Linked DNA regions of Homo sapiens: all the other regions are reported to be linked to region 3. The links are microRNA targets in miRTarBase. Many come from high-throughput screens and were not tested one by one. Region 3 holds a microRNA gene; each other region holds the end of a gene's coding sequence.
The links. The annotated mature microRNA hsa-miR-4282 reads UAAAAUUUGCAUCCAGGA and lies in region 3 at 2,053-2,070, shown strand. An mRNA with a match to its seed (bases 2 to 7 or 8) in the 3' UTR can be bound and repressed. Matches are read on the target gene's strand: a 7mer-m8 pairs with bases 2 to 8, a 7mer-A1 pairs with bases 2 to 7 and ends in A, and an 8mer does both.

Region 1 (3,266 bases), not on the chromosome of region 3:
TGTTCAGGAGAGTTTTTGAGAATCTGCTTTACATACTGCAATTTTGAGTGAAAATTATGGATATTAATTTCCTGATTAAAGGAACTGTGTCTTCTCATGATGAGTCCTAAAAATAAGCCAAAATACTACTTAATCTCCATCACTTTTTTTCTTAATTACTGGCTGACTTTTTTTCTGCGTGAAATGGCATTACAATGGCAGGGAAATTTAATAATGCAAAAATCACTTTTGAAAATGAGAAAGAATAATTCTAGTTACCTTTTAAATTGATACTTTTAAAGAGAAATTCAAATCAAAAATAAATAAATTAAAGTCTGAGACCAATTTGCCACTGTGAATATAAGCACATTAACCCCAGGAAGAGCCAAGAACTACACAAACCTCTCTATGAGAATTTACCAGTCTTCTTTCATTTGGCAAGAAAAAGCTCAGGAAAATTTGCTTGTTTAAATTCTATGAGCCTAGTCTATGGGGAAAAAAAAAATAGGAATATGAAAGAAATTCTTACCTCCAGCAACATATCATAGGGAGAGATGTGGACAAATGAACAATATTTACTGGAAATAGGAATTATAAATCAAATTTTGAAAACCCTATGCTAAGGAAGGAAGGAGTTATTATAAATTCACTCAGAGACCCAAACGTTAGGTTCAGCTAAAGAAATGTCAGTCTTGGATATATATTAAATGTTTTCAAGAGCAAAATTGAAATTACTGAATTGGAAATGCTCCAAATTATAGGTCATCATTTCTACTTTGGACAATTTTTTATGAATTCTATGTTTGCCTTTAATAATTTTAATTGGTATAATTCTTTCAAAAATCCTTATTTTCAAATGGACAAAAATTAAAGGATGAAACATACTCTGGCCATGACTAACCATTTTACCTTAGATGTTTATAAATAACAGTTCAAAATTTCATCATTATATTACTCTCATTTGTAAGTTCCACTATATATATATATATATATATATAAAAAGTGTGTGTGTGTGTGTGTATATATATATATATATATATACACACACACACACACACACACATACACACACATATATATATATATATAATCTTTTTTTTTTGGAGATGGAGTCTGACTTTGTCACCCAGGCTGGAGTACAGTGGTGCAATCTTGGCTCACTGCAACCTCCGCCTCCCGGGTTCAAGCAATTCTCCTGCCTCAGCCTCCTCAATAGCTGAGATTACCAGCATGTGCCACCATGCCCAGCTAATTTTGTATTTTTAGTAGAGATGGGGTTTCTCCATGTTGGTCAGGCTGGTCTAGAACTCCCGACCTCAGGTGATCCACCCCCTCAGCCTCCCAAAGTGCTGGGATTACAGATGTAAGCCACCATGCCCGGCTCACAGTATTTTCTAATACTGGCAAAACAACATCTTCTGAACACAAACACTTATCCACAGATTCTCATTTCAATTTTCTTCTTATCAGTTGTCTCTTTTGCAAGTTGAATGATAATTAAGGTGTGGAAATTACTGACAAAGCCTAGATATAGAAGTGGAAATTTTCTAGAAACATCAGTTGTAAATCTTATTTACAGCGACATTTCTTTTGCAATTTTTATGTTAATATATGCCTTTTCCTAATTAATCTGGACAGTTTCATCTGAAGAGATATTTTAACAGAAGAATATAAAATGTATAAAGAAAATGCACAAACTGTCAAAATTCATCATCGTGTAAAAATAGCCATAAATTTAAAAAACTTCAGAATTACTAACATTGCATGTAGATATGATTACAGATATGGGACTATTATTTTGAACATCTTCTTTGTTGGTGATTTCTCTCATGTTGATAATGTAATTTGAAGGCTTAAAATGCATATGTTTAGATAGACTCATCAGGGGTAAGTTATTAGTGAAACAGGTGGTTGTTCTAATGAGGATTTAATACCAAACTAACTCTTGCTCTAAGATGTGTTATACACTTTCCTGATCAAACTGATGTGAAAAAAAAAAATGACAGATAACTAAAACTTCCTGATAATGAATGAAAAAACATCTGACATAATAAATTCTCAAGGATTTTTACTTAAACATAACTCCTGGATGTGTCTCATAAACAGTAGCCCCTAGAAACTCTTCTTTAATGTATTCAACAATCCCCACTGACCTTTGTTCAAAGTGCTCTGGGTATAATCCATTAAAGCATGAGTGTTTGTTATCTAAATTGGTATCTAAGGGGAAGCAATGCAATGTCAATGTAAAATAAATTTCTTTCTCTCCTCTTTGCCATAATCATGATGTATGCTTTTTTTCAGAATTGAAAACACTTTTCACAGTATAGACATCTATAGTGTGTAAAACCATCTTTACAAAACCCATATATACAGAAAAATCTCAGTCTTCAATTTGAAGGTTCTTTGCCGTGCTAACATATGTTGTAGAGAATGACCACATAGTAATTGTCTAGTCTTTTCTCCTAACCCCAATAGGTAGGTATCAGAGACTCAAGAATTGTGCGACTCATAGAATAACTGCATATTCACTTTCTATAACTACATAGAGTTATAACTAAATTTCTTAGAAATTAGTTCGAATATGCTAAAATATATGAATAAAAATAACTGACTCCTTTTGTTTATCACCAAAGTTGTAATTCTCTAGACTTTCAGAAAATGAAGTAAAAATCCCTATTTTGTGTCTCCCCTTGGGCAGATTGCCAAGATCTCAAGTCCATTAGTTCATAACTTATCTTCTTCTGGTACAACTTCCAGTATTATTTGTAATGTTCTGGTTATTTTCTCTACAAAGAAATAAAAATGAATTAAAAATGCATGGAAATCAGAAATGCATTAAAAATAGCAAAATATGAATTATTTTGGGTTGAATACCAAAAACACACAACTGTCTACTTCATAGAGCACTTTCAAGAATTATTTACTTCATTAGAATTCTATCATGCTCAATTAATTTATTTGTCACTTCTGTAACTTCCCATGATGGCTTCTCAGCAAGAATACATTAATATTTTGCATTCAAATAAGGATTTTTATTCATGGACCAGAAGGGTGAAAATATTTTGAAACAGTAGGACCAATATATAAATAAATGTTTAAAAATACACTTTATATCAGTTTAAAATTGGTTTATTCTTTTTGCACCTATGAGATTACAATCAGTTCCTCAGAAGAATCTGGAGGAGAATCAGAATGTAATTTTCATTCTCTAACTTGTAACATGTTATTGAGAATGTTGTCTTATCTCCTAGGGCCTAATTTGCCTAATCAGTAGAATGAGAGACTAA
Region 2 (3,266 bases), not on the chromosome of region 3:
TACCTATTTCCAACTTGCCCAAGGCCATGAAGACACTAAAACTCCAGCCTCAAGGTATGACTTAATGCCACAATATTAGTTTAGAAGAATAGTTGGGAAGTAAGAGAGTAGCCAGAAATGAGTGGAGTTTTGAAGACTGAGGTTTGGCTACTGTGATAATGAGAAAGGACCACTCACTCCAGGTGAAAGCCTAGAAAAGTTCTAGTAGATATATTAAAGGAATAGTGGGCATACAGCAGGGAACAGGAAAAAGAAAGGTAGGAAAATAATACTGCAACCAGACTGAAAAGGGCTTCTTAATACCATGTCTATGATTTATTTGGGTCCACAATGGTGAAAAATGGCTTATTTTCTCTTGGATCTCTATTAATGTAAAAGTTTAAGATTACTAGGATTTTTTGTTGTTTGTTTAGGGACTACAGAAAGTCAGGAAACAAAAATTTAAATTACTACTATATTGTCTGTCCATCCAATCTTTCTGAAAGATCTCATTATCCTTTAAATACGGATAGTGACGTTATTTACTCATATAATTCTAACTACTGCTGAGTATTATACAGATCAAGTGGTAATAACAAGCTCCAGTTTCTTAGAAGGTGATACTTCCTTTACAAGTTAAACATGGCATATGGCAGTAATCCTGGACCTTCAGTGAAGATTTGTTTGTCATAATACTGCTAAGGATACTTCTGGTTTGTTTTTGAGACAAGGTCTCGCTCTATTGCCTAGACTGGAGTGCAGTGGTGCAATGCCAGCTCACTGCAGCCTCGACCTCTCAGGCTCAAGCCATCTTCCCACCTCAGCCTCTCAAGTAGTTGGGATTATAGGCATGCACCATATGACTGCTAATTTTTTTTTTTTTTTTTGGAGAGACAGGGACTTTCTGTGTTGCCCAGGCTGGTCTTGAACTCCTGGGCTCAAACGATCCTCCTGTCTTGTCCTCCCAAAATGTTGAGATTACAGGCATAAGCCACCATGCCCAGCTGCTAAGGATACTTGAGGTGGATAAGGTTTTTGCAGAAGTTGATCTTATAATAGCAGGAATTGGTAGATGAGACAATTCAGCTAGGACTATACACCGCTACCTTCCCCACTAAAACCAGGACAAACAGAAAACAAGCTTATCTCCTGAGAGAGAGAGAGAGAGAGAGAGAGAATTTTAAATAACTCTTTACAACGTAAAAACCATTTTTAGCTCAAAGACTACAAAAACAGGCTATGGGCCTGATTTGACCCACACATTATAGTTTCCTATCTCTGGTACAGACAACAAATTGGAATTAAGTGAGACAACATATGGGACTTTATTAAATAAGGTGAATTTGGGACAAATGAAAGGTGAGATGAAGGCAAACTACTGTCAAGGGATGATCTGAGCCTGAACAACTCAGTGAATGTGAAGAGAAAACAAGATTACATGTGAATATAGATGTTAACTGGAAAAGCAAGGAGAAAAAAAGGGAGCACAAGGAAGAAAAAAAAATCAAAATTTGTGAGCCATCTCAAGCCATCAAAAAAACTTCATTCTATTGTAGGAGGGAAGCTGGAAACAATGGCAGAGTAATTTTGTGTTAAGAATTAAAGTACTAGCTCCAGTTAGGCATATAAATGACAATTAGAAGGGACAGAAGTTATGGTTATGTCAGCAGCCTCCAGTGAGCTAGGATATAAACTAAGTCTTTTCAAGCTGAACAAATATATACACATTCAACCCATTTAAGTGAAGAGACACATTTAAGTCCACAAAAGCAAACTTAACTACCTACTATATAACTTACTTTTTATTGAAAGTATCTTGCATTCATGATGGATGCTTTCTGGGTTTTACCACATATTTTAATGTTAAAAGTTAAATTATTCTTTACATGCAAGTAGTGTGAATAATTTTCTCCACATGGGAACACTAATTATAAAAAGATGACATCCCACATGGGTTAAGTGTCTTTTTAATTGAAAAGCTAACTGTCCAGTTACATTTCTCCCAAAAAACCACAAACTGGGTAGTAACTGAGTCTCTAGGCAATATATTTAAAACTAAGAGGATTAAAAATAAAGAAAAAGAAAACAAGTCCTCAGATGCAATGAAGGGAGCCCTGCTACATACAGGCTAATCAATACAGTGGTACTCCTTGACTGCAGGAGGCTGGAAGACATCCTAGTAGCTCCACTCAGAACATTTACTTCAAGAAGCCTTTTTCCAGTTTCCAACTCATGAATAAAGATAATATTTTGTTAATTCTATTCCAGAAAACTTTTTTGCAAGTTGTTTTATTTACAATGCCAACTTTTAAAAGGTCACTAAAGTTAACTGGACAATAAACTAGGCAGACATTGCTTTACAAAAAAGAGGGAAAGCCCAAAATGCCACTTATAGAGAACCCACAGTTCAGTTTTATTCAGAGCAAAGAAAAAAGAAACTTTCCATCATACTAGAAGAAACTTGGCCGTAAGGTTTGGGATCTGTGCTCAAACTACACATGCAATGAGGACAATATTCTGCTAATACAATTGACTTGCTGCTGCATTTGTCTACTGTTTGTCTAATATTAACAATTATAAACAGAGCAGTGCAACTAGTATTTGGAACAATCCTTACAGTGTTACAGTGTCAGGCACAACATTTCACTTCTCTTCACACCACTGGTTCTCTTTGCGTACCTAAAAGAGATGGATATAGGGAAGTACCTTAACTTGAGTAGTCTTTCCTAAGACTTATAAATACTACCTACTGATTCATCGATAGCCAGTGAGTTGAGTCAGAAGAACAGATGGAAAATTAGAACAACACCAGGTTAAGACTATATTTCCGGATTTCCTTTCTTTGCCTCCCATGGTTTTTATTCTGCCCTGCTGAAATTATGAACAAAGCAAAGGCAATGGGCAATTTACTAAAGTTGACAGAGCAAATTCAGTTAATTCATTCACATTATTTCAGTCTGTAGTCATGTCAACAAAATCATTCTGATCTATTCTTTCATTTCCTCCCCTCATTAAGTTGCTCTAAAGTACCCTAGTATATACTTCTCTCTAGGGCCTGCTTTTCTGATGTCAGATATGTATGGTCTATACAGAAAGTTGCAGGTGCCAAAACTAGTAACTGTTAATACATTAACAAGAGCTCTTCTCATTGAAAACTAATTGTTCTTATGCTTAAAATGCAGTATCATCTAAGTGTTCAGATTCATAAAGACAGAACAGTAAGAGTATGTTTAAGACACATTAAGTACATATTATCCCTAAAGTATCAAGACTACTTGATACAGTCA
Region 3 (3,266 bases):
CAATAGTTGACTAATTCTGTATACATGGTACTGAATTCAACACAGGGATTTTCTTTGACCTTTAAGGTCTGATGTTTGAGAATTTGTTGACCAAAGAAATGGATTAACATATAGGGACTGCTATAAGTAAACAATCTGTCCAGTCGTATCTAGGAGAAAAATGACGGAATAGAATAATATAAAAGTAGAGGAGGGAAGATGAAGGGAATTCTGATACAAGTTGGGAATGTTACAAGAGTGAAAATACCATCCCAACACAATTGGAAAACTCTACCTAGGGGAGGAGGCACCACTAACTAATGACTGAGACAAACCATTAGGTTCAACCATATGAAATTGCCATTATTGTAGGTCAGAAACAACTGAATTTCAGCAAGTTTACATGGTCTAACCTTACATGTTATACCTGTATTGTGCTTACATTTTGCTATGTATATATGTGTATACATTTATAAATACCCAACACAAAGTTCATGCATATCTTCTTCCAAGATTCAAAAAATCTTAAGATGAAGGAAAGCTGACAATAATATTTATTATAACACATCTCCTTTGTCTAAAGGGTTATCAGTTCAATTACTTTCAAATTTGGTTGTAAACATATATTGTGTTTGGGCATAAATGCTTCTTAATTATTAAGTAATACCTGAATTTGCCACTTTTAAAATAAATATACTTTAAAAAATGAATACACTGAAATTGAGGAGCAACCAAACAGTTCTTACAGAAGCCAAACTGTACTTAGGAAACCCAAGTTGGCTATTTTCAGCTTATTCCTCAACTCCTTAGTTTCAGGTATAAAGTCATCACATACCAATTGGATGACTAGTCCAAAGGGAAGCTTAGTAAGAGATCACATTGTTTATTCTCATCCCTGAAGTCAGCCACACTTGAGAGATGAATAAACAACAGGTGCTGCCCAAGATTACAATGTAGGTTGACTTTGATGCTTCAATTATTTTTGGCCGAGATATTATATTTGTACATCTCTATGTTTGTAAATATTGCATATATGTATATATGGATAATTGTGGAAGTAAGAGCTATACACATCATTAGTTAATCTGATAAATAAACTTTAGTTAGTTTTAGGAGAATATCTCTGGATTATAAGAATAAGCCACTTCATAAAACATTTGTAAAACTTTGTAAAAACAAGTACATAAACAATATAGAAATGTATAACTTAGAAAGTCAAAGTCCCTAATAATCATTGTCTACACCTTTGCCTTCCTCTTTCAAATAATCAATATCATCAATTTGGGAGATATAATCTGAATTTCCCCCTCCTCATCACATGTTCTGTTTTTTTTTTCACTTATTTCTTTAAAAGTCTATCCTCCTTTGAGATTCTTTTCTTCACCCGTCTAGATCATAATGATATTTCTCTTCTCTACACTTTCAGTACTTTGAGTTTGCATGTTAATAATAAAATGTCTCACACGGTTCTCTAATTCAGTATTCCCCAGACTGTTTTCCATAGAACACCACTATCCCAAGAGATTTTTATAGATCTGTCTCAAGAAAAAGTTGCTCTGTCAAAAACACTTAGGGAGTTCTGGGTTCAATGACAATAACTGTATTTCTTTGTTGCAGAACTTCTGAGACACTGTGAGTGTGTGTGTGTTTGTATGTTTGTGTGTGTGTATGTAAGTTTCTATTCACATTTTATATAAATGAAAACATATCTTTGTCACATATATCAGATGTCCAATTTTGAGACTTGGTTGTGTTGGGGTCGCTAAGGAGAAGTGGCCCTGCGAATGAGGAAGAGACAGTGAGGGTCAAGAAGGAAGGTCAGAGTAAGCAGGGAAGAATCCAAAGAACATGGTATCCTAAAATCCAAAAGAGTTTTCAGAAGGAGAAAATGGGTCAGGTGCAGTGGCTTATGCCTGTAACCTCCACACGTTGGGAGGCCAAGGTATAGGGATCTCTTGAGGCCAGAAGTTTGAGACCTGCCTAGACAACATAGTGAGAACCTACTGAGACATCTTTAACTTCTTAGGTGTGAATGGTGAAGTTCCAGGGGAAGATTTTAGTATGCCACATTTCTAAAATTTGCATCCAGGAACATCATCCTATTCACCTTCTGACTGATATCTTAAGTGACCTTAATGGTTTTTAGAACCTTGTATGGAAAACTCTACATTCTTGAGAGCAGGGACTTTGTTCTTCATTCCTTTTTGAGACCCTTGTAGTGCATAGCATAGATCTGAAAACATCAAAGCACCCAACAAATATCCGTTGATTGCATCATATGGTTGAAGGAAATAAAAAGAAAAAAATGAAAAATATATTGAAAGATAACTAATATATGCCCAAACTTTTCACCATACATTTTCCTCACTGATTTATTTATCTTGAATTAAATAAAGGGATATTTTTTTGTCTTTAAGATGTACATCTTAAAATTACATAATACCATTATATTTCACTATACTGATCAAAAGTTATTGCATAGGAAGGGTGTACAGACTGATTATGAAATCCCAGTGAGAATATGAAAAATTTGCTGACTAAAATTTTTATAGTGCAAGAAATGTGTTTCTATCCTAAAGAGGGTTATAAAATGGGAGAAATAAAACCCTAAGAGTCATATCATTAAATTTATGGAAGTTCATTTCCTGTGTGTGAGGAGAGTCTAATGGAAAACTTTATAACCATGGACCTTCTCCTTTGTCACAGCTGAAGGGATCCAATGCTAAAATTCTGTTCCATGTAACAAAAAGTACAGTAGAAGAAAATATTGTATCTTGAGTATATTCCTGTCCTTCTATATCTTCCTCTGACTTCTGTAAGATATATTTTAAAAACTCAGTCCACATTCCTTAATTCCTCCAACTCCCTCCAGAAACAACAGGTCTTCAAGGTGTAATTGGGTAACTTTTATTGAAATCAGCTGTTGGTAGTCCCTGGCAACCATATGTGCCAGTTATTGAGTCACAGAGGAAGTGCTGGGTTCCTGAACACAGTCTGTATGGAGTAAATTCTCGAAGCATTTGGCCCTATCTCACAATGCCTCTCACTTTGCCCTGCTCATGATCCAGTCATGGATTTTAAATTGAACCCATGTTTCTGTTTCCATACTGAAAGTTAAGTTTTAGCATAAATATTTGAGGGTCACCACAAATTTAAGAGGATACCTTTCAAAATATGCTTTTCTTTTTTTTCTCTCTCTCTTTTTCTTTCTTTCTTTCTTTGATGGAGTTTCACTCTTGTCACCGAGGCTGAAGTGCAGTGTGGTGATCTTGCCTCACTGCAACCTC

Region 1: miRTarBase lists SLC7A11 as a target of hsa-miR-4282. Seed matches in the 3' UTR shown: 7mer-m8 at 914-920 and 7mer-m8 at 434-440.
Region 2: the mRNA of SKP1 is a reported target of hsa-miR-4282. Seed matches in the 3' UTR shown: 7mer-m8 at 1,486-1,492 and 7mer-m8 at 437-443.

The regions. Positions count from the first base shown.
Region 1 is chr4:138,169,253-138,172,518 of GRCh38, forward strand. It overlaps SLC7A11 (solute carrier family 7 member 11), which reads right to left. Exons shown (of 12, transcript NM_014331.4): 12 at 1-2,765. The coding sequence ends at 2,704. It overlaps SLC7A11-AS1 (SLC7A11 antisense RNA 1), which reads left to right. Exons shown (of 7, transcript NR_038380.1): 5 at 2,281-2,454. Among named protein-coding and RNA genes, the nearest start is that of LINC00616, 40 kb to the left of the region's middle.
Region 2 is chr5:134,155,111-134,158,376 of GRCh38, forward strand. It overlaps SKP1 (S-phase kinase associated protein 1), which reads right to left. Exons shown (of 6, transcript NM_170679.3): 6 at 1-2,658. The coding sequence ends at 2,623. Among named protein-coding and RNA genes, the nearest start is that of SKP1, 20 kb to the right of the region's middle.
Region 3 is chr6:72,966,501-72,969,766 of GRCh38, reverse strand. It overlaps MIR4282 (microRNA 4282), which reads left to right and starts at 2,014; the gene lies at 2,014-2,080. All of the region lies in intron 1 of KCNQ5 (potassium voltage-gated channel subfamily Q member 5), which reads right to left. All of the region lies in intron 3 of LOC105377855 (a long non-coding RNA gene), which reads left to right.